3 linked regions of the Homo sapiens genome follow. The protein of the gene in region 1 binds, or shares a complex with, the protein of each later gene. Each region holds a gene or a part of one and is shown in the gene's direction. Other genes may lie near its edges.

What was found.
Region 2: POLR3E (region 1) and POLR3G share a complex: the UniProt entries of both Homo sapiens proteins name them as parts of the RNA polymerase III complex.
Region 3: POLR3E (region 1) and POLR3F share a complex: the UniProt entries of both Homo sapiens proteins name them as parts of the RNA polymerase III complex.

What each region holds. Positions count from the first base shown.
Region 1 is NC_000016.10:22,326,440-22,336,942, forward strand, and holds the end of POLR3E (DNA-directed RNA polymerase III subunit RPC5), read left to right. Parts: intron 1-231; coding exon of another isoform or gene 232-321; exon of another isoform or gene 322-2,070; coding exon 2,071-2,148; intron 2,149-5,620; coding exon 5,621-5,746; intron 5,747-7,204; coding exon 7,205-7,261; 3' UTR 7,262-8,657; downstream 8,658-10,503. UniProt on the Homo sapiens protein: DNA-dependent RNA polymerase catalyzes the transcription of DNA into RNA using the four ribonucleoside triphosphates as substrates.
Region 2 is NC_000005.10:90,475,713-90,486,215, forward strand, and holds part of POLR3G (DNA-directed RNA polymerase III subunit RPC7), read left to right. Parts: intron 1-9,316; exon of another isoform or gene 9,317-9,812; 5' UTR 9,813-9,855; coding exon 9,856-9,972; intron 9,973-10,503. UniProt on the Homo sapiens protein: DNA-dependent RNA polymerase catalyzes the transcription of DNA into RNA using the four ribonucleoside triphosphates as substrates.
Region 3 is NC_000020.11:18,459,496-18,470,486, forward strand, and holds the start of POLR3F (DNA-directed RNA polymerase III subunit RPC6), read left to right. Parts: upstream 1-7,894; 5' UTR 7,895-8,011; coding exon 8,012-8,073; exon of another isoform or gene 8,074-8,176; intron 8,177-9,448; coding exon 9,449-9,566; intron 9,567-10,991. Other genes in the region: DZANK1 (double zinc ribbon and ankyrin repeat-containing protein 1), read right to left, coding at 658-811, 5,755-5,884, 7,367-7,372. UniProt on the Homo sapiens protein: DNA-dependent RNA polymerase catalyzes the transcription of DNA into RNA using the four ribonucleoside triphosphates as substrates.

The sequences.
Region 1 (10,503 bases):
CTCATGAAATGGGATCATGTTGGGTTTTATGTCACAGGACTGTGGTAGGGGCTAAATACGGTGTCTGAAGGCCCGGCCTATTGCCTGGCCTGCAGCAGGGCCTAGTGAAACAGGGCCCCTGCCTGGTTTCTCACCCTGTCCCCCACCAAGAACACCTGTTTCCTACTAGCTTTGCCATTGTTTGGAATGATTTAACTTCTAAGATCGTTTGATCTTCTTTGCAATCTGCAGATGAAGAAACTGAGGCTCCAAGGAATGAAATGTACGTTTAAAGGTCACTACCTAGGAGGTAGTAGAGCTGGAATTTGGACCTCAGTATAGTGGCCTGGAGTTTTGAATCCTTTCTGCTCAGCTAAGATGAGCTGCTTCCCCACAGCTGCGCCACGCCCCAGCTTGGGCCTGGGTCCTGGCGGCCTCCCTGTGCATCAGAAGCAAGCTGACCAGCTCAGCGCTGTGCTCTCAGCACTTCCAGTGCCAGGCCTTGAGTGTGGTATTGCAAGCCTCCTGCCCCTTCCCCCTGGGCTGCTTTTCTGTCACTGGGAGGGGCCCTGACGGGGGAGCAGAGTGCTTGCTGGGGACCGTTTCCCTGCGCTGAGGATAGAGAGCGCCAGGTGCTGCCTGAGGCACGCCTTTCCCGTGCTCCTTTTCCACAAGGCTCTGCCCAGACCTGGCAGCAAAATGGGGTGAGGTGGGGCTGTGGTGGTCTCTAAGAAAGCATTGATGTTTTCATTGCCAAGGTCAGGAGCGGGCCTGCAGCCTTGGGTGATGATCTGAGGCCAAGGCCCATCCCTGTGTATGAGGAATAGAAACTAGGACAGGAGGCCTTGTGGAGCCTAGGCTGTCTCAGGGGATCGGCCCTGCTGGCAGGCAGCCCCCTGTGGGAGGTACTGGCAGAGTTCGGAGCTCCTGCCCACCCAGCACATGGGTCTGGGTCTCCACAAGCTCACCTTTCTTCATGAGCTGGGCCAGGACAGGCAGGACACCTGCCTGACATTAGTTGTTTTGGGCCGCTGGAGTGGACAGAGGTGAGGGGTGGGACATGGCCACCCTCAGACACCCTCACCCCTCCTTCCGGACCCCCTCTGTCCATGTTGCTTTGGGGTGGGGCCAGCGTCTCCAGGAGACACCATGGCCCTAACTGTAATGCTCTCCTTGCCATCCTGACAAGGAGACTGTATTGTAGTCACATCCAAGACGTAAGAGACCTCCGATCCCAGCCACCTCTGTGTTGTACATGAGGGAGCTGAGGTCCAGGGCAAGTGAATAGATCGAGAACTTGACTTGAACTCCTGGTTCTGCTGCTTATTAGCTGTGTGACCATGGACAGTGAGCAAACCTCTCTGAGCTTACTTTTCCCCATGTACTACCTCCCCAGTTTCTAATGCTCAAATGCAAATGTGTATTGGAGGCCTCACAGGGCTTTTACTGGTAGTAACCATTATTGCTACTTGTGTGATGGAACCAGGACTGGAAACTACCATCCCAGATGCCCCCTCCCCTGTCCCCTTCTCTCCAGGACCCAGGCCTGTGTCACACTTGTCCTGGTCTACCTTTGGACCAAGTGGCCTGGATTGCTTGGGAGTCAGGCAGTGCCTCTAACCCACACTGACATGGTACATGTGGGAAGCAGTTGAAAAGAACCCCCAGGGTACCCCAAGAGTTATGGGGAAGGGGGCGCCCCTCCATCAGGGTTGGCATCTTCAGGAGGGAGGACTCTGGGTGTTAAAGCACAGTTGAGTTGGTGCCAGGCTGATGGGAAACAGACGCAGCTTCCCCACTGTACGGAGGATATCTGCAGACTCGAAGCCGGGCATTTCACTGGGCCCATCACACTCCCCCTCTCGCTGAAGCCCTGTCAGGCCCTGGGGGGTGTGCTGGCCTCCTCCCCATGGTGAGGTGAGAGGCACAGGTTTGTGGCTGCCCAAGGCCCTCAGAGATGGTGAGTAGCAGAAGCTGGGATTGGAACCCATGTTCCTGCATCTGGGCTGGGGCAGACAGGGAGGGATGAGGCAAGCAAATGGATCCATGGGGTAGAGATGGACAAGCAACTCACCCCTGGGCCTTGGTCAGTTTCCCCCCCAGACTGCTGCTTCCCCGGATGAGCAGAAGGTGTTTGCCCTCTGGGAGTCTGGAGACATGAGTGATCAGGTGAGGTGAACTTTGCTGCCATCTTCCCGAAGAGCCAGGGGGGTTTCCTGCAGCGTTGGAGGCCTTGGGGGACATGTGCACCCAAAGTGCAGCCACACATTTCAGATTTTCTGGCACACTCGGTTTTAAATATCCTGCTCCAACTCTGTACGCTAACAAAATAAGCTGTATGTGCCAATAGTTTGAACCTAAACCAGTGGTTCCCAGATGCCAGTCTGTGAGCCAGCTCCATCAGAATCATCTTTTAAAAAATACAGGCTGGGCGTAGTGGCTCACGCCTGTAATCCCAGCACTTTGGGAGGCCAAGGTGGGTGGATCACCTGAGGTTGGGAGTTTGACACCAGCCTGACCAATATGGTGAAACCCCATCTCTACTAAAAATGCCCATAGTCGTGGGAGGCTGAGACAGAATTGCTTGAACCTGGGAGAGAGAGGTTGCAGTGAACCGAGATTGCACCACTGCACTCCAGACTGGGCGACAGAGCAAGACTGTGTCTCAGAAAGAAAAAAAAAAAAAACATAGATTCAGTTCTGTTCAGTAGGTATGCGGTACTGTCCTAGGTATCTGAATTTCTGTAAAGCTTCCTGAGCAACTCTGATCCAGCCAGGCTTATAGAGCACTGGTGAAGCACATTTCTCAGGCGGCCTCTGGCAGCAGGAATCAAAAGGATTCCTTGTCAGATGTCAGGTCCTGGACTTTTAGGTTAAAGAAATTGGTCATTTTGCCTCTAGTCATACTGTGATGGGGAGGGTCACAGGTGTCCAGTGCCCAGAAATGTGAGTGGAAGCAGCAGCGCCTTGCGTGTGTGTGGTGTAGTCATGGACCCTGCATCCCAGCTTTTCTTAGGCCGTGAACGTACCTAATTTGATGGTCGAAACGCCAGTCGGTCTGACCGTGTCTAGGCCCTGCTCCTAAGGTGTGGGGAGAAGGGAGTCAGCAGAAATCCCACTGAGCTCTCTGTCCCCAGCTGCCTCTTAGGGGAGCCAACTGGCAGGCTGAGGATCTAAGGGGCTGGGGCCTTTTCCTGAGCAAGCTTGAGTGCTTTTGTCCAGAATAGAGGGTATCTGAAATACTTTGATAACAAAAAGGCAAAAAAACAAAAGTCATAAATGCAGATTTTTAAACATCAAATCAGACTAGAAGTTTTAATAGGAAAGCTCTTGCACTGCTGGACCTGACTGCCACCCCTCAGAGGTGACCACTTTTATTACTACTTTTTTAATAGAAACAGGGTCTCACTATGTTGGCCAGGCTAGTCTTGAACTCCTGGCCTCAAGCAGTTCTCCTGCCTCAGCCTCCCAAAGTGCTAGGATCATAGGCATTTACATCACCAAAAGATACCACTAAAATAGCTGCCCCCATTTAAAAAAAAAAATCAGCCTGTCATTAGCAATGGGCTTCCCATTGTGGTGGATGAGATTTAGCTCTCAACTATTTTAGGAGACTGTAGAGATAGATATGTTACGCCAGTTTTTTTTTTTTTTTTGAGATAGATAGCGTCTTGCTCTTGCTCTTGCTCTGTCATCTAGGCCTGGAGTGCAGTGGTGCCATCTCAGCTCACGCCTCTTGCGTTCAAGCGATTCTTGTGCCTCAGCCACCCGGGTAGCTGGGATTACGGGCTTGTGCTGCCTCACCCAGCTAATTTTTGTATTTTTAGTAGAGATCGCGGTGGTAGGGGTCGGGGGGTGGTCCCACCATGTTGGCCAGGCTGGTCTCGAACTCCTGGCCTCAAATGATCTGCCTGCCTTGGCCTTCCAAAGTGCTGGGATTACAAGCGTGAGCCACCACACCAGGCCTTTACCTCTTTTTAATTGGCTATCATTGTTTATAGCATTGTCACAGAATGAACTGAAAATCTATCCATTGTAGAGCCAAACATCAGTAATATACTATGATTGCATTTCCTTGTTCACTGCTTCCTGTTTTCACTTGTGTAATTTTCTGAACACATGTGTACCGAGGGTGATACTTTGCTTAATTAAGCCTGGTTCCCGGGAAGCCTCTCCCTCTGCTTCTCCAGTGAGACTCGCTCTTCCCCATGTCTGTTGCTGAATTCTGGAATCTCTGCTTCTTCCTTGCTTTAGCTTCTGAAGAGACAGAGGAGTTGTCTGCATTCTTTCATGTCTTAAAATGGATTACAATACAGTATTACTGTTTGTCTGGGACTAGAATTTTAAGAGGCAAAGGATACTTCATGTAGCAGTCAGCTGTTTACATGAACCATAGCAAAAAAAAAGGAGAATCAAATCCATCTCCTCTTAATGTTTGCAGAAAGATGCAAACAAAACCAGCTAAGTATGGAACAATGTGTGAGGTTATCAAAGTTTCTATTTTTACGTGATCAAATGATTTGCCTCTCAAAATTCTAGTCCTAGACAAATAGTGATACATGAAGCATCCTTTTTTTTTTTTTTTTTTTTTTTTTTTTTTTTTTGAGACAGAGTCTCCCTCTGTCAGCCAGGCTGGAGTGCAATGGCACGATCTCGGCTCACTGCAACCTCCGCCTCAGCCTCCTGAGTAGCTGGGATTATAGGCGTGTGCCACCACGCGTGGCTGATTTTTGTATTTTTAGTAGAGACGGAGTTTCACCACGTTGGACAGGCTGGTCTCGAACTCCTGACCTCAGGTAATCCGCCTGCCTCGGTCTCCCCAAGTGCTGGGATTGCAGGCGTGAGCCTCTGCGCCCGGCATGAAGCATCTTTAAGAGAGTTTCCATTGTTTAAGTTTTCAGAGTTGTTGAAATTCCATAACATTCTCCTTCTTGGTCTTTTAAATTTGGCCTGTATTCTTTCCTTTATGCCAAACTGCAGAATTTTTCATTATTCTGTATATCAGTCAGTGCCATTTCAGCTGTGCCCTGGTGCGGGTCATTATTGTACTAGACAATTGAGTTCTTATAAAATCCTGTGAGTTGTTACTTTTTTTTGTTTTTTTCAGAATTCTTATGACAGATATTAGACATACTGAATCCAATCTTTTCCATTTTTATTTTGGGGTGTAACGTATTTTACGGCATCCTGTTTCATGGATGCAGTGGCATGTTTGTGCATTAAGACTTCACACCAATTTTGACACCCTCTTCTCATCTCCGTGCAGCTTAGATTGTCGCTTCACCTGCTTGCTAAGTCCGATGCACGCCTGCATTTTACCATGCAGAAATATGTTCAAGCCACTCATCCTCTCATGTCTCTTCACCAGTTCTTTTGTTATGCTGGCATATACCTTTGTTTTTATTTATATTCAAGTTTCCAGACATAGCATTAATGCCTTTACTTTTGTGTTTTTATTTCTGTACACTGTCTTGCTGGGTCTCTAGAGATGACTTGGCTCATCTTTAACCAGAGGTGCTGCGTGAGGGTTTTTATCAGAGACTGCAACACAAAGTCAGGTGCATGGCTTGGGTGTCTTGTTTGGGGATGTTTCTCTTTTTAGATCACTGTTTCCCATCATAACGTGTTTTTGCTACTAAAGCATCGACAGGTTTTGCTTGAAATTTTTTCCAAAAATTACCGGGTACGCCGAAACATGATCCAGTCTCGGTTGACTCAAGAGTGTGGAGAAGATCTCAGTAAACAGGAGGTGGATAAAGTACTAAAGGTACATCCATTTTGTGCATAACAAACAATATCAAAGGCTCTGGAAGGGGCTGACAGTGTGTAGAAGGGACTCTAGTGTCTTTGTGTATATGAAATCAGGCTTCCTTGGGACCACTCCCCAGTCAGTCTTGTCTTGAGCAACTGTTAATGATTGATTGATTGGCATTGGTTGGGGAAGGGGGTATGTGCCAGAGGACTGACCCCTTCAAACAATATAGTCACAGTGGTGTCCAAGGGAAAGAATACAGCCATGGATGCTTTGTTTCTCTTTCTGGTTGGGCCAGGCCAGTAATGCCCCTTTCATCCCTCTTCTCTGCTTGTCACTAGAGACAGAAACTAAAAACCATGGCTTCAGGCTGCTAAGAGCCTAAAACAATAGAACAACAAAAAAATATGGTAGGTTGGATGAGCTTGGCAGTGGGTAGGCGTCTTCTAAAATGATAGGGCCTAGTTGAGAATCCTCACTCTACTCTCCCTTGAATTTTGAACTATCTTCTGATTGTTGCCATAGCCACACACATGACTTTCAGTAGAATCCATTCTTAAATTTAGTTTAAAAAGGAATATGATCTGTTTACTATATGAAAGCACCTAATGTACAACCTATAATGCTTTTCTGAAGTGACTGTAGTACAAATACCAACCATATTTGCAGCAACACTGAGAGACAGAAAACTGATGACAATGTCTTGTTTTGATTAAACATCCAGAGCCATATAAGTAATACTGTTTTTTAAGCACCCTTGTTCTGGGCATGTCAGTATCTGTATTTCGTAGACCCCCTTTTTTTTTTTTTTTTTTTTTTTTGAGATGGAGTTTTGCTCTTGTTGCCCAGGCTAGAGTGCAGTAGCACAATCTCGGCTCACCGCAACCTCTACCTCCCAGTTTCAAGCAATTCTCCTGCCTCAGCCTCCTAAGTAGCTGGGATTACAGGTGTGAGCCACCATGCCTGGCCCACCCTCACTTTTAAAATGCCCCTGAGGAATGGCCAGGCGCGGTGGCTCACACCTGTAATCCCAGCGCTTTGGGAGGCTGAGGTGGGTGGGTCACTTGAGGTCAGGAGTTTGAGACCAGCCTGACCAACATGGAGAAACCCCATCTCTACTAAAAATACAAAATTAGCCAGGCGTAGTGGTACATGCCTGTAATCCCAGCTACTTGGGAGGCTGAGGCAGGAGAATCGCTTGAACCTGGGAGGCAGAGGCTGCAGTGAGCCAAGATCATGCCGTTGCACTCCAGCCTGGGTAACAAGAGCAAAACTCTGTTTCAAAAAAAAAAAAAAACACTACCCCTGAGGAAAGGGTGGCTGGTAGTAGCCATGGTGGTATGGTTAGGCAGTTTTTGATTTCCCATTTGTATTCTATTCACTAATCATAAATCGAGTGTTGACATTGTGGACAGAATGTAATTAGCTCCTTTTCCTGCAAAAATCTGTGCTTACCCTGTTTCTCTCTCATAGGACTGCTGTGTAAGCTATGGTGGCATGTGGTACCTTAAAGGGACAGTACAGTCTTGACAATAGTAGCAAACTACTAACCCAGCAAATCTAAGCCCAAGGAAGAAGGGCGGAACCAGAAGTAGGGCCTCGACTTGCTTCAGACGACACAGAGCAAGAGGAACTGACCATCTCATGACCTGTGGCATTGCACGGTGCAGTGGACAGAAGGGATTATCCTCAGCCAGTCGCAGGGTCAGCTTAAGTTAGTTAGATCACTCCCAGAAGAGACCAGCTGGGACCTTCTTTGCAGTACAATTTGAAATTCCTGATGTATTTTGCTTATTATTTGGTTTCATTCTCATAATAAAGAGAGTGTATACTGACATGGGCAGGATGATAAAAATCATGGTTTAATATTTTCTTTTGTAAACTTAATGCCAACAAGGTCTAAGTTATGTTTACAACATGAAGAAAACCTCAAAGTTCTTAATTTTTAAAATGCCTAGAAGACAATATTTAGTCTTGGATTATCTATCTGCTAAGACCTCCACCAATTTCATTAAACCAAATTGAATTATTCTATTCTTGGGATTCTGTGGCCACTTCACCTTTGACAACAACCTACTTTATGTAGCAGTCTCAACTGTTTACATGAACCATAGCAAAAAAATCAGAATCAAATCCATCTCCTTTTAATGTTTGCAGAAAGATGCAAACAAAACCAGGTAAGTATGGAACAATGTGTAAGTGAGGTTATCACACTTTGATGTAAAAATTTCTATTTTGTGTATTTTTAAAATAAATGCAAACACTAAACTAGCATCATGGTGCTATCTTCAAATGGTTACAGGAAGGCGATCTTGTTGGGCTCAGCGTTACGTGTATCTAGAGGGAACGGAGCTAATGGAGGAAGACAGAGCAGCACTGTCCACTAGAAAGAGGCGAGTCACGTACATAATTTTGAAAGTTTCTAGCAACCACATTAGTTTAAAAAGGTCATGTTAGCATATTATTTAGCTCAAAATATCTAAAACATCAACATAAGGTAAAAGTCTTCAAAATCTGGCATTTTACACTTTCCTCAACACTCAGTTTGGACTAGCCACATCATAAGTGCTCCGATGCCACATGGGGCTATTTGCGACAGTATTGGATAGCACAGCCCTAGAAACTGATGGAAAAAATAAGAGTAAGCTAGGTTGGATGACATGTGAATTTTGGTATCTAGATAAGGCTTTCGCCATCTTTTTTGTACAACACAGTCACTAATTGTCTGAAGGTTTAAATGACGGTCTATGCTATTTCCCCACTCCCCCCAAAATAAAACATCTAATATTTTAGCTATAGAATCACTAAGGCATTGATCAAGGATGTACTTTGCCAAATAAGTATTTGGTAACATCACTTAACAAGTTGATCGTGTATTGATTCTGTTAACATATGTGAACCTGAAAAGTAAAGTTACCAAAAGCGATTTGGAATATGTCTCAGCTTTTCCATCCTACTTCCTTCTCACTTTGAAAGGGGAAATGCTCATGTGGGACGGCACAGAATGTTAGTCCCATCACCTTGCAGAACTTAATTGGCTCAGTGGAGAAGTCAGAGCCTTAAATACTTTACATTGATAAAAAGAACTGGTTAAAACACCAAACTCAAATAGCAAGAAAAAGAAACAAGGAATATAGGAGGGAACTATTGTTTTAAAAAAAATTGAGGGAACTTGGGATGTCAGAATAGGACTTTCCAGCACTCATCCCCCTGCAGAAACATGAATTTAAACAACTGTCCACACACAAAAATACCTTCACAAGAGTTAAGGAACCTCTAGAGATTACAGCACCTTGGTGTACCACAGAAATAAGATGTACTAAAGAGGATAGGAGGGACAATTTTACATTACCTAGCTTACCCCCTCCCCAGCCCCAGGCAGCACAGGGTGGAGAGAGAGAGAGAGAGAGAGAGAGAGAGACCCTCTACTTGGAGGAAGGAGAACATTGGACCCCAAAATCATGCCAGCCCCAGACTCCAGGCCTGCGCCAGGAACACAGGCTCTAAGCATACCCACTGCCAGGCCTGCACCCATGAGCTCACACTCTAGCAGGCACCCCCTCCCCACCCTGGTCCAGCCCCATCTGAGTAAACCCCAGCACTGGGCTGGCCCTCACAGACTAGGCTCCAATATCCCCTGCAGCCCCAGGTTCTAGGCCAGCCCCCATGGCCCCAGGATCCAAGCGAGCCCTCAGAGACTAATCTCCAGGCCAGTATCTATATACCCCTGGCTCCAGGCTGATCTATATGCCCCCATGCCAGCACCCACAATCCCAGGCTCCAGTACAATACCCCTGGACCCAAGGTCCATGTGTGCCTCAGCACCAGGCTCCAGTGGACCCAGGTTCCAGGCACATACCTCAGTAAGCCTCAATGCCAGGCATGCCCTGGCGGACTGAGGCTCCAGAACAGTCCCTATGGACCCAGAACCTAGGCCCACCCCTGCAGGTTTTTAGGCTTCAGGTCAGCTCCCTGGATGCAGGCTCCAGGCCTGCCCTTGTGGACTCAGGCTCTGGTTGTACCCCTGCAGACCCAATCAACTGGCCCACTCCACTGGACCTACGTTCCAGGATTAATCCTATGCATGCAAGCACCAGGCTCATCCATCTGCTGACCTAGGTACTAGGTCAGCCTGCTCAAGGACTCCAGCAACAAGCCTGCCCACAGAAGACCACACCAGACAACTTGCCCAGAATCTCTGAATGGGCTCACTGGTAAACGGCTGTTCCAGGCAAAGTCAGACTGCAAAGATTAGAATCAGTCCTTACCACTTCATCCAATGTACAGACATCAACATATGACCACAAGGATCAAGAACAATCAGGGAGACATGCTATCACCAAAGTAACAAAATAAAGCACCAGAAATCTACCCTAAAGAAATGGAGATTTATGAACTGCCTGACAACTCAAAATAGTTTTAAGGAAGTTCAGCAAACTTCAAGAAAATACACAGATATAACTCAACAAAATAAAGAAAACCAAATCAAGAAACCTAATAGATTGAAGTTATATATTTTTTACAAACCATTCTGAAGCTGAAAAATAATATGAATGAAATGAAAAATGGAATAGTGAGCATCAACAGAATTGATCAAGCAGAGAATCTATGAACTCAAAGACAGATTATTTGAAAATATAGCCAGAAGAACAAAAAGAATGAAAAGGAATGAAGAAAGCTTAAGGGATTTATAGGACAGCATCAAAAGAGCAAATATTTGAGTTATAGAAGTTCAGTAAGGAGAAGAAAGAAATAAATCACAAAATAGTAGC
Region 2 (10,503 bases), on another chromosome or scaffold:
TTGTTTGTTTGTTTGTTTTTTGAGACAGAGTCTCTGTTGCCCAGTCTGGAGTGCGGTGGCGCGATCTCGTCTCACTGCATCCTCCGCCTCCTGGGTTCTAGCGATTCTCCTGCTTCAGCCTCCCGAGGAGCTGAGGTTACAGGCGCCTGCCACTGCACCCGGCTAATTTTGTATTTTTAATAGAAACGGGGTTTCACCATGTTGGCCAGGCTGGTCTTGAACTCCTGACCTCAAATGATCCGCCTGCCTCGGCCTCCCAAAGTGCTGGGATTACAGGCGTGAGCCACTACACCCGGCCAGAAGCATCTATTTAGGCTTCAGAAATTCCCTTGAGAACTTAACTAACCTCTTAAGTTAGTCAGGAAAAATGATAAAGAGACTCATGAGACAGCATTACAAAAGAATTATGATAACCTTTACTGTGACAACTACTAATAAGCCTTCATGGAAGGAGAGGTGTACGCTCCTTTCCTACCCTCCTAAAGTCTTTGGTGGGCATGCAGCTTTTCTAAATACTTTGCTAATCTTCACAGAGATTATTCGGTTACTCAGCTGGGGGCTTTCCTTATGCACAAGTCGCTGAGCTGGGTAATTCATGAACAGAGTTGTGTAAAAAGGTCATAATCTGGATTCTCAGGAGTTTGAGGGAAGATAATGTCTGTACACAATTACTTGCAAAATAAAGCATTACGGGGTATGTACCACAGAGGAAGTAAAAGCTAGATTCAGTAAGAATACAGGTGGAAGGGATTCGTGAGGAGTGGCTTTTGAGCTGGCCTTAAAAGACTACTTTTAGGGCATTCTCAGCAGAGTAATATAGGGCCCTCAGTAGTCTGGGTACTTTTTCTCTAGGCAGAAGCAAGCCACTAGTGGTGAAATGGAGTGATATCTCTACCAGGCCATGAGCTCAGCAATAATTTATCCAATAATCATTGGCCTTTTGCTAGGCTTTCGTTAGTAATGGGGACATAAAAAGGAGAATAAGTTTCCAAGGAGACCTTCACACTTCCAGGTCCCCCTGCCTGCATCCCACATCTCACTGGATATCCTTTTTTAATTCTCTACATGGCTCTTTGCCTTACTTTTGTCAGGCTTATGCTCAGGTATCACCAAGTAAGAGAGGACTTCTTCAGCCACCCTTTCCACAATAGCATCCATGTTTCCTGTCTTTATTTTTCTTATCATTTCCTGACATTTCCTATAAAATATATTTTGTCAGTTTCTTACCCTAGACTATGAGCTTCATGAGAGGAGAAATTTTGTTTTGTTCACTACTGTATTCCCAATTCATAGAAGACGGCCTGACGATGAGGGTGCTTAATAAATACTTGATTGGATTGAAGAGGCTCCCTGGGAGACAGATAAGAGCTGACAGTTACAACATGATTGTAAAAAGGGCTTAAAAGCAGAGTAGTACTTGGGAAACACAGAGAAGGGAGAGGCCTACCTCCATGTAGGGTGGAAGAAATTGTCATGGAGAAAGTGTCATTTGCATGGCATCTGAAAAGAACCTGGGGCTTAAGTGGATGTGGCAGGAAGGGCACTCCAGGCATGCAATGGTTGACTTGGCCACAGCGTGGGGTGCCTGTGGTGAGAGGCAGAAAGACTCCAAAGCTCTGTTAAGGAGAGTCACATGTCAAGATTTGTATTCCAGAAAGATACCCTAGACTGCAGAGTGGATTGAAAGGGAGAATCCGGCCACAGGAAGTTTATTTGTTCTGTTTTAGAGGTCCAGGTGAGAGATGAGAGGGTCTGAACTGAAGCAGAGGTGGAAGAAACAGAACATGGGAGAGAGAACAGAGCTGGTAAACCTCTACTATTAGATGAGGGGTTGGAAGTAGACAGGTCAGAATACCTATCCTGATTGTAGCAATTTAGGGGTCATTCATCAGGAATAATACCGTGACTTGACTTTCACTGCCTCCTCTAGCTTCTATGTCTGCTTCTATCTGTTTGTGCATTTATTCATGGAGCTGACGTTGTTACTGGTGGAGGGTGTCCAGGTTCTTGGCGTCTTGAACAAAGAATTGGACGAAACGCGCAAAGCAAAGAAAGAATGAAGCAACAAAAGCAGATACTTACTGAAAATGAAAGTACACTCCAGTGAGGCAGTGGGTGGAGCATATGGGCTCAAGGGTCCCCTTACAGAATTTGTGGGGGTTTAAATACCCTCTAGGGGTTTCCATTTAGTTACTTGGTGTACACCCTATGTAAATGAAGAGGATGAAGTAAAGTTACAAAGTCATTTACTTGGCATATGCCCTATGGAGAGGATATTTCCTGTCATAGCCGTAATGTGAATTGGCCTTTTGTTCCCTGCCTCCAGACCCTATTTTCCTGCCTCAGTGTGGACAAGGAACTGTGTAAGACGTGGAGGACAAGACATTTCAGTTACCTCATAACTCATAAAATGTTAGAACTAGGAGGAATTTCAGAGATTAGCTCAGCATCTGCTAGGACGTTGTTTTGGTAGTTGATTAAAATTGACTTTTTTATTTCAGCTCTTGGATGCTTAAACTACACCCATTTTCAAACCTCTCAGAACAATTCTGAATAGAAATTTTCAGGAGACATCCTGAAATGGAAGGGGCAATGCTACTGATTTTACATTTTTAATTGAGTCTGTTTTGCAGTTATTAATTCACTTCATTGAATAAAGACCTCCCTGGGATTAAAAAAGTCTTCTAACCAGCCTAGACCTATGCTTCCTGAAGTGTAATGCAAATGGAAGAACAGTGGAAAGGTAAAGCAGTCCTGCTTTTGTTAGGAATTAGCTTTGCGTCTTTAGGTAATCAAGTAACCGCTTAGGGTGTTGCTTTCCTCTTCTGTAAAATGGGAGGTTTAATCTGCGTGGTTCTTTTTTTTTTTTTTTTTGAGAGGGAGCCTCACTCTGTCGCCTAGGCTGGAGTGCAGCGGCGCAAGCAACCTCCACCTCCCGGGTTCAAGTGATTCTCCTGCCTCAGCCTCCCGAGTAGCTGGGACTACAGGCGCGTGCCACCATGTCCAGCTAAGCCTGTAGTCCCAGCACTTTGGGAGGCCGAGGAGGGCAGATCACGAGGTCAAGAGATCAAGACCATCCTGGCCAACATGGTGAAACCCTGTCTCTACTAAAAATGCAGTGGTTCTTAATTTGGGTTGCACACTGTAATCTCCTGGGATGCTTTAAAAAGTCCTGATGCTTAAATGGTACCTCCAGAGCTTCTGATTTTATTGTTCTGGGGTGAATCCTGGGTTTTCTTTTCTTTAAAACCTCTCTCAGTGATTCCAATGTGCAGCCAGGTCCCACTCAAAGAAAGGGGGAAAAAAGCCTTAATAATGGGCTGACTGAATTGTCCTTCTGTGGGTAGATTTGCTCATCAAATCACAGTGCACAAATAGGGTAAGCTTGACATTAATTGTGGAGCTGTTGCTATATAGGAAGCACTATGGTAGACAGTAGGGAGGATAAAATCCCTGCTTAACACAGAACCAACAAACAGCCAGGCGCGGTGGCTCATGCCTGTAATCCCAGCACTTTGGGAGGCTGAGGCAGGCACATCACCTAAGGTCAGAAGTTCAAGACCAGCCTTGCCAACATGGTGAAACCCCCATCTTTACTAAAAATACAAAAATTAGCCGGGCTTGGTGGCAGGCACCAGTAATCCCAGCTACTCTGGAGGCTGAGGCAGGAGAATTGCTTGAACCCGGGAGGCGGAGGTTGCAGTGAGCCGAGATCGCACCAATGCACTCCAGCCTGGGCGACAGAGCAAGAGTCCATCTCGGGAAAAAACAAACAAACAACAAACGAAAAACATAGGTGAAACTCCTCCCCTTTGGAAAAGATCAATTTCCCAAAAGTGGTATTCTATTTCTTTGAAAATTGACAAGTGTGGCAACATATATCACCTGAAATTTTTTTTTTTTAATCTGTGTTTTAACAGGAGGATCTTTCCAAGAGCAATGTGGGATGAAGTGGTTGTTGTGGTTGCTGAGGGACTTAAACTGGCTTTTTTGGTGAAAAGGGATGTAGCAAGTCAGGGAGGCAGAGGGAGTAAGTTGCAGTGGAAAGACTGGTATTCAAGACATGACTATAGTGAGTCAGGAGAATAGGGTGCAACCATCTTAAAAGGGCTCTGAGTAAATAGGGAGTTTGGATTTAATTCAGTTAGCCAAGAGGGAAGATGAGGAGAGTAGCAGAATCAAAACTGTGCTTTAGGATGAGTAATGTGGATCCATAAATTAAACAGGAAGAACAAGGGATACCACAAAGTTTGCAGTTAATCAGAAGTGAGGTGAAAAAGGACTGAGCTGGATTATGGTAGAGAAATTGCAAAGAAAGTGACATTTAGAAAGAATATGATTGATCAGTGCTCTCTGGCTCCTAGCACAGTGCCTGGAATGCTCAATATTGGTTGAATGAATGACTCAATGAAATTGGGCCATATGAAGTAGAGAAACATTTGGAGCATGAGGAAATATAGAAAGCACTAAAACTCCTTTATTCTAGAGTTTGGTGTATTGAAAAAGGAATGAGACAGTGGTTAACTCAACCACAGTCTCACTTGTAGGCTGTTTCTTTCATGATACATTTACCAGGATCCAGGGACTCTCTCTGAGCTCTGCAGGAGAAGAAAATGAATTTATCAGCTCCTCTGTGTACAGGGTAATGGATTCATGAAAACTAACTTAAAGAGATGGGTTTGTAGGCTGGAATGCCACATAATTATTAAATGTGTCAAAAGCTAGGAAGTTTTTCTGGCAAGGGTGGTACCTTCGCTAATGATAGCAATTCATACACCCAAAGATTGCTTGATAAAAATGGAAATTTAGAGTCAATAGAGTTTGTTATTTTTCAAGAGCTGTTCCATGAAGCAGTGCTAGCTGGTGTCCTCTTTTTTTAGGGTGAGTTTTCCAAACTTTTCCAGGGCCCACCTCCAAAGATTCTGGTATGGTAGGTTTGAGGGCTTGAAGAAAGCCTAGGACTCTATGTTTAGCAGGTCCTCCAGTTAATTTTCATGATGAGGAAAGTCTGGTAAACTTTACCTGGAATTGTTTTTAATCTTTAAGTAGTGGCAAATCCTGGACTGGAGTGCAGCCCAGTGGTTTTGAGTAGGCCTAGTGGGCTCTTGCAGTTGTTTCTTAGAGTGAAAGGTGTGACCCCTTCTGCTCAGCAGTTTTGATACTTGGGAGATACGCTTTCTCTAGGCTCAGCATATGTTTTAGTGACTCAGCAATTGAAACAAGTCCATTTGGATATTTTCCTGCTTTTTTAATGTAGAGAGATGTAATAAGCTGGGCTATTAAAATAAATATAGTTCCTGTATGAACTTTATTTCAAGGTAACTAAATAATAGATAAGAGAAATTGATCCCTGGTGGAATTCCAATTAATAAAACAGAAAGAAAGATAAAATTTGTATACCACCATTTTGCAATTCATAATGGAAAAATTGATCTAGATTGTGATCATCAGTGACTGCTAAAATCATTAGGTGAAAACTGATGGACACTTTATACTTAATGAAATAGACCAACACCTGAACCCATGACCAGCCTGATCAATACCAAGAGGGAGACTTTATGTTCATCTTGATGTAATAGAGAAGGAAAGAGAGAGCATCCCTTTTCAGTATTCTTGAAAAAAAAAAAAAAATCAAACCCAAATCTAAACCTCTAGTTTACCTGTTTATTGGAAATACACCCAGAGAATACAGGAATATGTTAAATCACATCTCAGGTATAAATCAGTCAAATCCAGAATATGGGAAATTATATAGCTTTGCTACTTTCAAAGTATGGTTTACAAACCAGTTGATGTCTCCTGAGACCTTGATAAAAATTCAGATTCTCAGTTTCTGTCTGCAGCCAACTGATTCAAAATCTGCCTTTTAACAAGATTCCTAGGTAATTCTCTTGTACCTAAAGTTTAAGAAGCATTGTATAGGGCACTGACCTAGTTTCTTAGACAAATAGAAAGAAAAAAAAATGGGAAAACCATTACAGTTTAAAAGAAAGTTAAATGTCATGTATTTTTTATATCTTGATTTGAACAAATTAACTGTAAAAACATTTATGTGATAACTAAGAAATGTGAATGTTAGTTCTATATAAGATGATGGTATAGAGTTATTGTTAAAATTGTAGATGCAATGTTATTGTGATTTTTTTAAAAGCCCTTAACTCTGAGAGAGGATACATACTGAAGAGTTTAAAATAATCTGAAGCATGGGAGTAGAAAAGTATAGTTAAAGTACAATAGTCATATACGGATAATTTTGAAGCTGAGTAGTGGGTATATGGAGATTTAATATACTGACTTTTGTGCATGTAAGTATAGTAAATGTAAGTATTAGTAAACCAAAAAAGGCATAGACTTGTAGTTTAAAACGACAACATTAAAGATGACAAATCAACTTTTAGTGTTCAAGCAGTTATGAAGGAAAACTCAAATATGGAGGCCTGCAGGGATAAATTTACGAAATGAATAATGTAAAACTATGAAACCCAAAGGGAGGGATTGAAACCAACTTTGCAAAAGTCATAACTGAGAAAATTATGACAGTGAAAGATATCAGACCTAATTGATCCCATCTTGCTTCTAACCTCTGAACTGTCCTTGTTCATTCTTGGGCGTGAAACCACCTTTGCAAAATTATGACTGAGACAGTGAAAGAGATCTAACCTAACTGTGACTCCATCTTGCTTCTAACCTTTAAGCTGTCCTTGTTCATTCCTGGGCATAGGCTGAACTAACTTTGGGAGGAAATTAGTTTATGGTTTGAAACAAAGACGATAACAGACTTTCCCAAAACAAACCTCCTCCTTGCCTGGGGACTAGACTGCCATTGTCGGACTAAGAAATTATTCACAAGATTAGAAATTATAGTTTCGGAGTCATGCAGCTGGAGGCTACAAGATTCTGACCCTCCCTAAACCACTCCAAAGATCAGTGCTTGAGATATTTTGCAGACCCTGCACTTGATGGATCAGGGGGCACTACCCAGATCGATTAACTGACTCTTCTGATCTTGTGGCCCCCACCCAGGAACTGACTCAGCAGAAGAGAACAGCTTTGACTTCCTATGATTTCATCCCCGAGCCAACCTATCTGCGCTTCCAGTTCACTGGCCCCCTACCCACCAAATTAACTTTAAAATCTCTGATCTCTGGCTGGGCGCAGTGGCTCACAACTATAATCCCAGAACTTTGGGAGGCCAAGGCGGGTGGATCACCTGAAGTTGGGAGTTCAAGACCAGCCTGACCAACATGGAGAAACCCCGTCTCTACTAAAAATACAAAATTAGACAGGCATGGTGGCGCACGCCTGTAATCTCAACTACTCGGGAGGCTGAGGCAGGAGAATTGCTTGAACCCGGGAGGCGGAGGTTGCAGTCAGCGGAGACCATGCCATTGCACTCCAGCCTGGGCAACAAGACCGAAACTCCTCCGTCTCAAAAAAAAAAAAAAAAAAAAATCTCTGATCTCCGAGTTTTCGGGGAAACTGATTTAAGGAATAATAAAACTCCGGTCTCCCGCACAGCCAGCTCTGTGTGAATTACTCTTTCTGTATTGCAATTCCCCTGTCTTGATAAATCAGCTCTGTCCAGACAGCAGGCAGGGTGAACGCCTTGGGCAGTTACAAAATCATATCTGAAAATGTTCTCAGTATCATAGCCATTATGTCAAATCAAATGCCGTGCATTCTACTTGAGTAATTCACAGAAAACAGGAAACGATGTTTCATTACATAAAGATGTTGAATATATGATTTGCTTCTGGGGCCTTAAATGTAGAAGGACATTAAAATTGGCCATCATTGGCAGGGTGCCATTGGCCGGGCACGGTGGCTCATGCCTATAATCCTAGCACTTTGGAAGGCCGAGGCAGGCAGATCACTTGAGGTCAGGAGTTTGAGACCAACCTGGCCAACATGGTGAAACCCCGTCTCTACTAAAAAAATAAGCCGGGCATGGTGGTGCGCGCCTATAATCCCAGCTACTTAGGAGGCTGAGACAGGAGAATTGCTTAAGTGAGGGAGGGAGGTTGCAGTGAAAAAAATAAATAAATAAAATATTTAAAAAATTAAATTGGCTGTCTAAAAGTGCAATGCCTTGTTACTGCTATTCCTTGCAAATGAATTAAAACTTGGACTGCCACATCCTGAGTGTTACATAGATTTACAGCAATTATAGTTATCTTACCTTTAAGGCAAATATTTTTAAGTTGCTAAGGCTAATTTTATAATTTTAAACCTCAAAGATGAGATCTATGAAGTCCTTGATTCTACATGTGTATTTTAACTCAACTACTCCTTAGTAGCTAAGACTTCCACCAAAACAGTTCTACCAATACTCTTAACATTTGCTGTGTATTAGAATCACCTGGGAAGCTTCTAAAACTGACTCTTGCCCAATCCTCACCCCAAGAGATCTGGATTGATTGGTTCAGTTCAGTGATTCACAGAACTTAGCATACATAGAATTATCTGGAAGGCTTCTTAAAACACCAGTGCTGGGCCCACTCACAGTTTCTTTTTTCTTTAGGTCTGTGGTGGAACTCACAGTTTGCATTTCTACCAAGTTCTGAGTGATGCTGCTGCAGACAGCACTCTTTGAGAACCATTGCTCTAGTTTCTTAAGCCACCCAAGTCATTCTAATGGCAGCCAGGGTTGAGAACTGAGAGCCGCTTGCTTTGTAGTGTTGGCCCTGTGATAAAGTGAGCTGGGAGTTTTCAGCCTTTTGGTCCAAAATAGTGCCTATATTCAAATTGTAGACAGTAAAATTGATATAAAGACGTAGCACCTTGTTGGTTTTACGTAGTGTTCCTTCACCATTAATGTGGTAGACTAAGAAGGGTAACATTAATGACCAGGCAAGAAACCCTGGTGAAGAGTAGAGCAGCTGTGTGAAGTACTGTGGCTTGCATAATTTTGCAAGGAGGGCAAGTGAGTAGATTCAGAAATGAGACTGAGCTGATGGGGCCAAAACCAATGCCACTCCTCTGACTTCCTCCGAGTGGTCCAGGGGACATACCATTTCTCTCTTGGGTTCAAGGGGTTAAATGAGGCTCAGTATTATCAGCAGGGAAAGAAATGTAAAGAATGTGCATTATAATCATCACTACAGTTGAATGCAGACTTCTATTGAAAGAACTCTAGCGTAGGGATCCCTGTTTATACATTGGCAGCTCAGTTCTCATAGTATAATCAGAGGATTCAAACGTTCAATACAACTTGCATATGTGATATCACTCCTGTCTCCAAAATTGAAGAGTACAGGTTTATCATAACTTTAATGATTTTAACTGTTTTTCTCTGAATTTTTTTTTTCTTGGACAGGCATCTTTCGAGTCTCATTGATCCCATTCCCATTTCTAGAAGGAAGACATTGGACTAGATCTCAGGGATTCTTCCAAACACTCACATGCTAAGATAAATCATTTAAAGTCTTAAAGTATATATGACTAATGATAGTTTTTATGTTGACATGAAAGATTTCTTCTCCTCATCAGCCTGGTCTTGTCTTGTGTCCACTTTTTATGTACATTACATCTGAGATCCTACTGCCAAACCACAGAAGGGTGGGTGAATTGCGTGGACTGGATGTGGGGCAGTAGTGGGTGAGGGGGTTGAAGCCATCATTATCTTACCTGCCAGAGGTGTGTGAGTGTGAGCAGTTCAACAGTCAGTTGTCACATGTTTATTTGTGTACATGTTTTGCTTTCCAAAAGTATTTTAAGTCAACTGTGCTACTTAAGGGGTGCAGTTTTATATTTTGCTTTAAAGTGTTGATTTCTTTTTTATATGTGATCCAGTAAATCGTAATCATTAATAGTGCCTTTCAGAATTTGCCCACTCATCTGGTATAACTGGTTCTGATGGCTGGGAATAAAGGAAGAGGACGTGCTGCTTATACCTTTAATATTGAGGCTGTTGGATTTAGCAAAGGTGAAAAGTTACCTGATGTAGTGTTGAAACCACCCCCACTATTTCCTGTAAGTATATGAACAGTTGAATTCTCATAGTGTGTTTTTTCATTTTTCAGAGAATATTAAAATTCTATATGGGACTGGATGTATGATTATAGCATCCTCAAGTATAAGAAAGTAAAGGAGAGTGTGTTTCACTTACCTTTAAATATTTTCATGATCTGCTTTCTTAAAATATAGAAAACAAAACTGTATACATCTTTCCATGAATATATTTAGTACTATGTGAACCAGTAAAGAATTAGTTTTCAATTCTTACAACTTGTATTGGTGTTATTGATAAATTCCAATATGAAAATAATAGTTTTAAAAGTCATTAGGTTTTATAATGGTTCTCAGTTCGCACCCTATCACACCTTCACTTAATGATTTTCTTATCTTGTATCTATAGAATTTAAGTTTGCTCCTTAGTATACCACTTGACTTTTTCCCCCACTGAACTTTTTTTGCTTATTTTAGTGTTGTTTTAAAATTTAGTGAGTATGCTGCAAGCTTAATTTCCATAATATATAATGTTTTCGCTTTATGTTTAGTTTA
Region 3 (10,991 bases), on another chromosome or scaffold:
CAAACCTGCATTGCTGGAAAAATAATTCCTATATCACAGCCACACAGAATTGCAAGGATTTGAGGTTTTTTTTTGTTTTGTTTTGTTTTTTGCCTACAACACATGGTGAAGGTTGCCAAATTAAATAGTGTTTCTATATTTGAAAATGGGAAAAAGTCATTAAGAAAAAAAAGGATAAAGAAAAAAGTATGGTAGCTAATGTCCAACAAGTTGAAATGACAGTAGCTTTGAAGGCCAATTAAGTCGATACAAAACGAAATCGAGAATGACGGCGGTGGTTGTAGGCTGCATCCTGGGGAATAAAAGAGCCACTCCGCGAACACAGTATTTTCTTCAGAGCAAGATGGAGCTCTTTAGAGACCCCCGGCCCTGGAAAGGATCTTCCTTCCTGAAACCCCAATGTGGAATTTAAAATAAAAACAGTATTAATATACATAACACTTCACTGAGCTGTATACTTATGATTTCTGCACCTTACGGTATGCCTCAATGAAAGGCAAGTAAAACACAAATGTTACATACATATGCTGAAATTAAAATAATGTTTCAGTAGTGTCCTTCTAATGCAGCACTGATTCTGATAGGAAAAAATGAATAAAATTAGAACATAATGTTATTATATCATAAATTAAATTAATCACCATGCTCTTAACTTACTTAGAGACAGCAATAGCTTTAACTTGTATTTTTCCATCAGGCAGAGTAATAGGTTTTATATACTTAAATGTGTTATTTTCCCCATAACCAATTCTCTTTAGAAATTCAGGTTTGCTGCCATCCAGAGTATAATATATGTTGACATCTGGAGTGTCTGAAAAATCCAAAACAGGATAACTATAATTAACACCAAAGTAGCAAGTCCCTGAATAATGCCTATAGGTCAGTTTAAGATCTAAGTGTGTGATTTAAGATTTAAAGTTGTGATTTAAGTTAAGATTTAAAGTTGTGACTTAGGACAGGCATGTGGCTCACGCCTGTAATCCCAGCACTTTGGGAGGCCGAGGCGGGCGGATCACGAGGTCAGGAGTTCGAGACCATCCTGGCTAACATGGTGAAACCCCATCTCTACTAAAAATACAAAAAATTAGCCGGGCGTGGTGGCAGGCGCCTGTAGTCCCAGCTACTCAGGAGGCTGAGGCAGGAAAATTGCCAGAAACCGGGACGCAGAACTTGCAGTGAGCTGAGATTGCGCCACTGCACTCCAGCCTGGGCAACAGAGCGAGACTCCGTCTCAAAAAAAAAAAAAAGTTGTGATTTAAGATTGTGTTAATCTCCTTAAATAACTGATCTATAGGTTATTATATATACATAATGGAAATGAATAGTAATAGCAATAATGCAGTTCTTTCTCTGTACCAGCATTGTGCTTTACTTGAATGAGCTCATTTCATCTGTACAACCCTATGAGGTAGGTCCTATTTTACACCCATCTTATAGATGAGATAACTGAGTCCCAGAGAGATTAATAAAGTTGCTAAATAATAGAGGAGTTGTGATTTGACTTCTGCTAGGTTGGATACATAGCCCCTGCTCTTGAACCACTATGCTCTTTTGCCTCTCCAACAGGGCACTGACACAAACATGATTCAAGATTCAAAAGGTCAAAAAGGGTATACAGTGAAAAGTCTCCCCCAACCCACGACACCAGCTTCCCAGAGGTTATCAATGGTATCTTCAGTAACCTTCAAAAATATTTTATATCCATACAAGCATCTATGTACATATTCTTATTTCTCCCTCTCTTTTGACACAAATGATGGCATACTGTACCCTGTTCCACATATTTCTTTTTTCATTTATCAGTATGTCTTATATTGGTACATAAAGAGCTCCCTAGGAAATAAATTTAAATTTTTTTAAAAAAAGAGCTTCCTCATTATTTGTTATAGCTGCACCACATTCTCTTATATAGATGAACAATAATTTAACCAATTCCCTACACATGGATCTTTAGGCTGTCTTCTTTTTTCCTTTTCTTTGTTTCTTTTGCAATTATAAGCACTATAATAAATAATTTTGTAAAGAATTATTTCTGTAAATATATGGGCAAGACAAATATGTAGAACTAGTTACTGCTGAGTCAAAAGATACATGCATTTGTAATCTTTTTTTTTTTTTTTTGAGACGGAGTTTCACTCCTGTCATCCTGACTGGAGTGCAGTGGTGCGATCTTAGCTCACTGCAACCTCTGCCTCCCGAGTTCAAGCGATTCTCCTGCCTGAACCTCTTGAGTAGCTAGGATTACAAGCACCCACCACCACGCCCAGCTAATTTTTGTATTTTTAGTAGAGACGGGGTTTTGCCATGTTGGCCAAGGTGGTCTCGAACTCCTGACCTCAGGTGATCTGCCCACCTCAGCCTCCCAAAGTGCTGGGATTACAGGTGTGAGCCACCATGCCCTGCCAGCATTTGTAATCTTGATTAATATTTCCAAACTGCCCTCCATGGATGGTTAAGCAATTTACACTGCCACCAGCAATGCATGAAAACACCTATTTGACCACAATCTTCCTCATCTAGTGTGTTATCCATTTTTCTTTTAGTTTTCCTAATTTCCTAGGTTAAAAAAAATACTATCTTGTAGTTTCAATTCATCTTTCTTGCATTTTGAGTAAAACTCACTAATTCATTACAATGAATGTTTGCTGAATACCTATTATGTACCAGACATCATTCTAGGTATAGGGGATATGCAAAAGTATATCTTAGGGGCTCCTTGCATATCCCCTGTACCTAGAATGGTCCCTGCTCTCATGGAGATTATGTTTTAGGAAGGACACTGAAACAGTAAACAACCAAGGAAATGTAGTTTGTCAGGTGGTGATTAAGTGCTTGGAGGTGAAGCAGGGATAAGTTCTGCTCAGCAAGCAGACGAAGGGGCAGAGAGAAGCGTAAGGAGAAGAAATATTTTCATATGTTTAAGAGACCTTTATATTTCCTTTCCTACAAAATGTCTTTTCATTATTTCTCAAAAGAAGATATACAAGTGGCCAACACACACATGAAAAAATGCTCATCATCACTAATCATCAAAGAGATGCAAATCAAAACCACAGTGAGACACCATCTCACACCAGTCAGAATGGCCTTTGTTAAAAAGTCAAAAACTAACAGATGTTGCAGAGAAAAGGGACACTTATACACTATTGGCAGGGATGTAAGTTAATTCAGCCACTGTGGAAAGCAGCTTGGAAATTTCTCAAAGAAATAAGAGTTGAGGCCGGGCGCGGTGGTTCACATCTGTAATCCCAGCACTTTGGGAGGCCCAGGCAGGCAGATTAAAAATACAAAAATTAGCTGGGCATGGTGGCACACAACTGTAATCCCAGCTACTCCGAAGACTGAGGCATGAAAATCACCTGAACCCAGGAGGCGGAGGTTGCAGTGACCCAAGATTGCATCACTGCACTCCAGCCTGGGTGACAAAGTAAGACTCGGTCTTAAAAAAAAAAAAAAAAAAAAAAGAAAGAAATAAGAGTTGAAATACCATTCAAGCTAGCAATCCCATTACTGGGTATGTACCCAAAGGAAAATAAATTGTTCTACCAAAAGGACACATGTACCCATATGTTCCTTACAGCACTATTCATAATAGCAAAGACATGAAACCAACCTAGGTGCCCACCAATGGTGAAATGGACAAAGAAAATGTGGTACATACACACCATGGAATACTATGCAGTGATAAAAAAGAATGAAATCATGTCCTCTGCAGCAAATGGATATAGTTGGAGGTCATAATCCTAAGCGAATTAACACAGGAACAGAAAACGAAATACCACGTGTTCTCACTTATAAATGGGAGCTAAACATTAGGTACAAATGGACATAAAGATGGGAACAATAGACACTGGGGACTACCAGAGGGTGGGGAGGGCTGAAAACCTACAGCAATGCTTGCTACCTGGGTTATGGCCTCAATCATACCCCAAACCTCAGCACCACACAATATACCCAGGTAGGAAACCTGCACATGTACCCCCAAGCCTAAAATAAAAGTTGTAAAAGAAAAAACAAAAAAAAGGTCTTTTCATATCCTTTGCCCATTTTTCTTCTGGGTTACTGTTCTTTTTGTTACTGAATTGTGAAAACTATTTATTTATTTGATATTTACATATTAGGGAATTTTGATACCCTACCATTCATATCATCTTTTGTCAATAGTCACCCAACTTCTCCTAAGAATTATGGGCACATACATTAAAATGTTTAATTTGGTTTGACAGTTTAAAAAATTGTATCAGCTTTTAAGCTAAAGGAGAACACAGATAATAATACATATGCTTAGTTAGAACTCTTGGTCTAAGCAGCACAGGGGTCATAACATAAATGCAGATAGTTTGTACACATTTCAGTTATTAAAATATATAATTGGTTAAAAAAAGGCAAAAATTGGAATTTCAAAGTCTTTTTTACACATCTATTTGTTCATATGTTTTACCTGTGAAACTTTCCTTCCTTATGTTAATTATATATGTGTATGTATATATATGTGTATGTGTAGATATACACACATATTTAAGATTTTGAAGAATACGTATTAGCAGGATATACATTCACTGCTTTATTTCTTTTTTCTTTTTCTTTTTTTTTTTTGAGATGGAGTCTTGTTCTGTCTCCCAGGCTGGAGTACAGTGGCGCCATCTCGGCTCACTGCAACCTCCGCCTCCTGGCTTCAAGCAATTCTCCTGCCTCAGCCTCCCGAGTAGCTGGGATTACAGGCATTGGCCACCATGCCTGGCTAATCTTGTATTTTTAGTAGAGACAGGAGGCTGGTCTCAAGCTCCTGACCTCAGGTGATCCACCTGCCTCAGCCTCCCAAAGTGCTGGGATTACAGGCGTGAGCCACCAGGCCTGGCCCTCACTGCTTTATTTCTGTAGTTAGAGTTGAGATTTATTTTCACATTACTATATGCCAAACCCTGTGCACCTCATACATACACGAACCTATTTATCCTCACAATGGCTCTAAGAAGTAGATATTATTATTCCTGTCTTACAGTGAGGTAACAGACTCAAAAAGGCTAAGTAATGTACCCAAGGTCACTAGAAGTTGTCAAGGCAGGGATTAAGTCTCCAACCTGTCTGACTGGAAAGCCTGTATCAGTAGGTCAAATTTATTATACCAGCTAAATAATGAGCATATTGGAAAAGTTTGGGGAGCACCGGGACTTTTTTTTTTTTTTTTTTTTTTTTTTGAGACGGAGTCTTGCTCTGTTGCCTAGGCTGGAGTGCACTGGCGCGATCTCGGCTCACTGCAACCTCCATCACCCAGGTTCAAGCAATTCTCCTGCCTCAACCTCCTGAGTTGCTAGGATTACAGGTGCCCACCACCATGTCTGGCTAATTTTTGTATTTTTAGTAAGACAGAGTTTTGCCATGTTGGCCAGGCTGGTCTTGAACTCCTGACCTCAAGTGATCCACCTGCCTCGGCCTGCCAAAGTTCTGGGATTACTGGTGTGAACCACCGCACCCGGCCAGCACCGGGACATCTTACCTTGGCTAAGGTAAGTCAAGACATTGCTGAAACTATACAAATGAAAGGTTGGTCAAAGCTAACCATTTTAATCTAAATGTATACCACTCTATAAACCATCAATGTACAGCACTGTTTCAAATTTTAGAAGTTTTACAAATTTCCCAAAAAGCTGAGCAAAGAGTGAGAAAGCAGGCAAAGAGATAAACCAGCAACCAGATAACACAAGAAATATGACAATGTTATTTTAAACAATTTCAAACATATGTGATTCTTACCTGATTTCATTTCCAAAAGCGTATTGTTATCAATTTCATGGTTAGCTTTTCCAGGCTGAGGCACTCGTAATGGTATGATCTGAGGGACACACACTGAACCAGCAGTCATTTTCTCTCTCTCTCTCTCTCTCTATATATATATACATATAAATTCCAATGTACACAAAAGCTGAAGAGCAGCACTTAATTTAAATGCAGCAAAACTAGTTAAAACGAGAGAATACTGTTAACATGGCACTACAAATATTATTCCCTTTTTAATTGAAATAATAATTACATTTCATCTGTATTTGCTGTTGAGGTCTTGTGTGGGGTTTTGATTATCTAAATACCTCACTTCTGCGAAAGGAGCATGAATGAATGAGATGGGGAAAAGAAAGAAGTTACTTTAAAAGGACAAATTAAATGAGTAAGGCAAAACAGAGACTATCACTAACGCTCTGACTTGAGTTCCCTGTAAATCATTATCGCCTTTTCCTGCCTCTGGTGTGTGTCAGCTCTCTTGGCTTCAGGGCAAGTCATCATACAAGGGGAACAGAAGTAATTCTGTGTGTACCACAAAATGTTAGTTAGAGCTAACTTTTTTGGGAAAGCTCCGGGTTCACAGCCTTGCCATTATCACCAGAGCAGTTCTAGTATTTGAAAGCTGCAAAGACACTTTAGAAGGACTGCAGAGTACTACTTCTCAGTGGAAAGGAAGTTTGCAAGAATATAAACAGTGACCAATAAACACAAGCCTCCCGTTTCATCTACTGTATTTATAAATCCTGGTATTAATAATTAACTACCAGTATGAAAGCCTTACTGGTCTTTTTGGAGGTGAGGGTGGGGAGGAAGGTTGTCATAATTAATGCACAGAAGGTTTCAGGGGGAAAAAACGCTCACCTTAACACAACAACCATTTACATCTCTGTATTGCCTTTTCAAATTTCATTAATAATCCATAGATTTTGCCCAATTATAATCTACATATTCATTCCATTTTTATAGTCTACTTCTTGCATTCTCACTGTATTATTTAGTTTTCCCTGTACTTATTTATCCATTTGTGGCTGGGCATTTAGGCTATTTCTAGTTTCTTTTTAGTTTTGCCTGTTGCAGTTCTAATAATGCTGATCTGAACATGTCTGCAGTTTGAGCTTTGTCACAGACTGTATTCTCAAAAATGGGGTACCTAAATTTAAGGGGTGAACTTAATGCCTTGTTGGATAGTTCCGGATCTAGGGCCAAGAATATAAACTACAGATACTGACAGCACAACAATAGCTCCTACGGGAGTGTGGCTGGACTTGAGACTTGCCCATAGTCGCATTTCCATTTAAGTGAAAGGCAGATAAAATAAAAGTAGTTGAAAAATTCTAAATAAAAAATATGTAGGAGAGGAAGTAATTCGCGAGCGTCAACTAGCAGCTGCCCTTAGGAAGCTGGGGTGGCCAGTGGGCCCCACGCAAAGGGAATCAAGAAAAAAGGCGGATCCGCCAGGCCCAAATGGCAACGTGCAGTCAACAGGATCCCCAGACCCCTCAACTCTCCCAACGTGGACCGCCCCCTCGCAGCCCGGATCCGGAATCCCGTTTGGTTGTTCCCGCCCATCAGGGGCTGCCAAGGACACCTGCATCCTTTCGGCTGGAGTAAGGGAAGCTCTTCCCCTCCTCTAGCCGCCCTCCTCTTCCTCTAACCGCGGGGCCCGGGATCGGGACCCCTAATGCATCTCTGCCGCGCCCAACCCAGTCGCCAGCCTCTCACCGCCTCTTGCCTCCTCCTTCGCCGCCGCCCGGGTTACCACAGACGCGGCGAGCCGCGCCCCGCCCACTGGGTGCTGGGCAGATGATTGGTGGAGACTCAGCTTCTTAGCAACTAGACCGGCCCCTGCCGCTCCGCAGGGAGCCTGGTACCCGCCTGGAGTTCCTTTCCCAGTGCTTTCCCATAGGCATCTAAGAATATTCCTTCACAGAGTTGCCAAGTGCTAAAAGTTGGTTTCCCAACTCAGAATGAAGGAACCAGGCTTGTGCGTCCGATGGGCATTGACATTCTGGAAAACAAGAATAAGAAGCTGTAGCGGCGCCTGTAAGTGGGCCGGAGCAGGCGCAGCTTGGCCACCTCCCGCCGAAAGGCAAGGAAGGACCGGCTGCGACACGAGGAAGAAGGCCCCTCGGCCTCAGCAGAGCGCTATCCTCCACTGGTTCCCCGGGTTCCCCGGCTTGCTACCGGGCTGCTCCGTGCATCTTTCCCCCCAGGCGTCAGGAACTGCGCCCTCATGGCGGAGGTGAAGGTGAAGGTGCAGCCGCCTGACGCGGATCCGGTCGAAATAGAAAACAGGTAAACCAGTGAGGCTCCGGCTTGGCACTCCATCAGGCGCCCAGTCATTTGGGCAGCTGGACCCCTTCTCCGGGATCCCTTGGGAGTGGCCGGAGCGGGTTAGGTGAGCACGCGGGAAAAACGATTGCGGGGTTCTGGACCCACTTGTTCCTTCCCATCCTGGGAGAGCAGAACTCAAGAAGTTCAAAATGGGTTTGACAGCTTGCAACTTTGTGTAGCTGGCTGGCTTTGCCCTGATACTTTTGGGGAAGTTGTGATGACGTGCTGCCTTCCTACTTTGACGCGATCAGTGCTTTGAGAGGAGCCCTCGGCTTTCTTTCCCTGTAGAACACTTGTGAATACATGTTCTGATCCAGGATCGCTCTTGTCACTAAGGGAACGTCTATGACAAAACGTTTAGGCGGAGTTAGGGCGCAGTTGGTGATTACGAAGTAACATTAAGCCAGGTGGTTTCAGTGCAGTATTGAACTCAAGACTTTTAGGACACCCAAAGCCTCTGCCACTTTTATTTTTATTTGTTTGTTTGTGAGACAGAGTCTCGCTCTGTCGCCAGGCTGGAGTGCAGTGGCGCGATCTCGGTTCACTGCAATCTCCGCCTCCCGGGTTCAAGCGATTCCCCTGCCTTAGCCTCCCGAGTAGCTGGGACTACAGGCTCGCGCCACCACGCCCAGCTAATTTTTTATGTTTTAGTAGAGACGGGGTTTCACCATGTTGTCTGGGATGGTCTCGATCTCCTGACCTCGTGATCCGCCCGCCTCGGCCTCCCAAAGTGCTGGGATTACAGGCGTGAGCCACCGCGCCCGGCCCAGTTTTATATTTTACCGAGGCACTGCCACTCTTAGATTTTCACGTAGTTTTAAAAGACTCAACTTTCTCAGACTGTTAGGAATAATACATTTGTTGATGTCGACTAGGTGAAGATTTTGACTTTTTTTGTTTGGTAGGTATAATTCCAAAAACAGGCCCCATTATGGTGAATTGTCATAACAAATTTTGGCTTCCTACCAGAAACATCTGCATTTGCCTCCTGCTTGCAGATTTATGGCTTAACTTTGTCATGCTTATTACACCCGAGAAAACTGAAGTCTCAGCTTTAATATTTTTTCTGTGATTTCATTAGACTTTTGCTCTAATTTAAAGTTCTTATTAGTGAGGAAAAGAAATATTCTTAAATAACAATAATACTGTAAACATGTATTTAGAAATCATCTTCTTCAATTTCTAACATGCTTTGATCCAAAACCATCACAGAAACCCAGATTGTCTGCCAAATGTGAAAAAGGCACAGTTTCAAACTATTCTACTTGTATTTTTACCCCCACTGTCTCTTGAAACAGGTAACCATGAAGGATAACATTAATACCTTTGTTTCTAGGATTATAGAATTATGTCACCAGTTCCCTCATGGAATCACAGACCAAGTAATTCAGAATGAAATGCCTCATATAGAAGCCCAGCAGCGGGCAGTAGCCATCAATAGGTTGTTGTCTATGGTAAGGTGAATCTAACTATTTTGCATAATTACTGATATGCTGATTATCACTGGTTTTTATTATGTAGTTGTGATGGTTAATTTCATGTCAACTTGACTAAGATACAGGATTCCTACATATCTAGTTAAATATTTTATTGGAGTGTCTGTGTGGGTGTTTCTGAAAGAGGTTAGCATTTTGAATTGGTGAACGGAGTAAAGTAGATATGGGTCCAGTTGGGTGAGCATCATCCAATCCATTCAGGGCCTAAATAGAACAAAGTGGCAGAGGAAGATTGAATTCACTCTTTGAATTCAATCTTGAGCTGGGCTATGAATCTTGTGCCCTCAGCACTCCTGGTTCTCAGACCTTCAGACTTGGACTGGTATCTACACCATCAGCTCTCTGCTCTCAGCCCTTTGATCTGCAACACCAGCTTTCCTGGGTCTCCAGCTTGCAGAGGGCAGATGATGGGACTCCTCAGCCTCCATAATCACAGAGCAAATAGCTTCTGATGAATCTTTCAAGAGGGAGGTGTATCCTATTGGTTCTTTTTCTCTGGAGAACCCTAATACAGCAGTCATAAAACGAGAAAGTGTGTTAGGTTTGACTGATAAGACTCTAAACCAGGAAACAGCTCAAACTACCTGAATTGAAAAAAGAAGAAATAATTATGCGTTATAAGACAAATGAAATAAATGTATTATGGTATAACTGTTGTATTTATTAATTGCCACTGCCATACATAGGTCTAGTCTGTTCTCACCTTCTGTTTGCTTCCTACTGCTGGTGTTGGGCCATTTCCCATAAAATATTCCACCCCCCGATTTTCCTATGAGTTGTCACAGAGCCCAGTCATCAGGGTTTCATTCTCCACATTGTCACTCTGAGCATTTCAGGAAGCAAGAATGAGTCCAGTTGAATGAAGAATGTTGGGCTTTGGGGAGGAAGTGCAGCCTTAGCCCCCAGTGACATTGCAATGGAATTTATCAGTGAAGCCATTCTCCATCTGTCCAGAAACAAACAAGCAAGACTGTCTAAAAACCCACCAAGTGGTGCCGATGCTCTAAATCTCCCTTACTTTCCCTCATCACCAAAACATCCTTTTCCTAAGAGCATTTCAGTTTGGCTTTAGTAGCAGTTAGGTTAAAGAGTTCTACGCCAAGGCCTCATCTGAATGACTGATTTGTTTTTTAAGTCTACTAGCCTTGTTGGATTTCCAAGGGCTCTGGATGTGGAGATTTGGGGTCCGATGAATCTTTTCTTAAACCTTTCCCATCAATTTTCTAGCTCAGGAGTTGGCAAACTTTTTCTATAAAGTGCCAGACAGTATATGTTTTAGGCTTTGTGAGCCATATGATTTCTGTCACAACTACACTGTCATTTTAGCAAGAAGCAGCCATGGATGATGATACATAAACAAATGGCTACAGCCATGTTCCAACA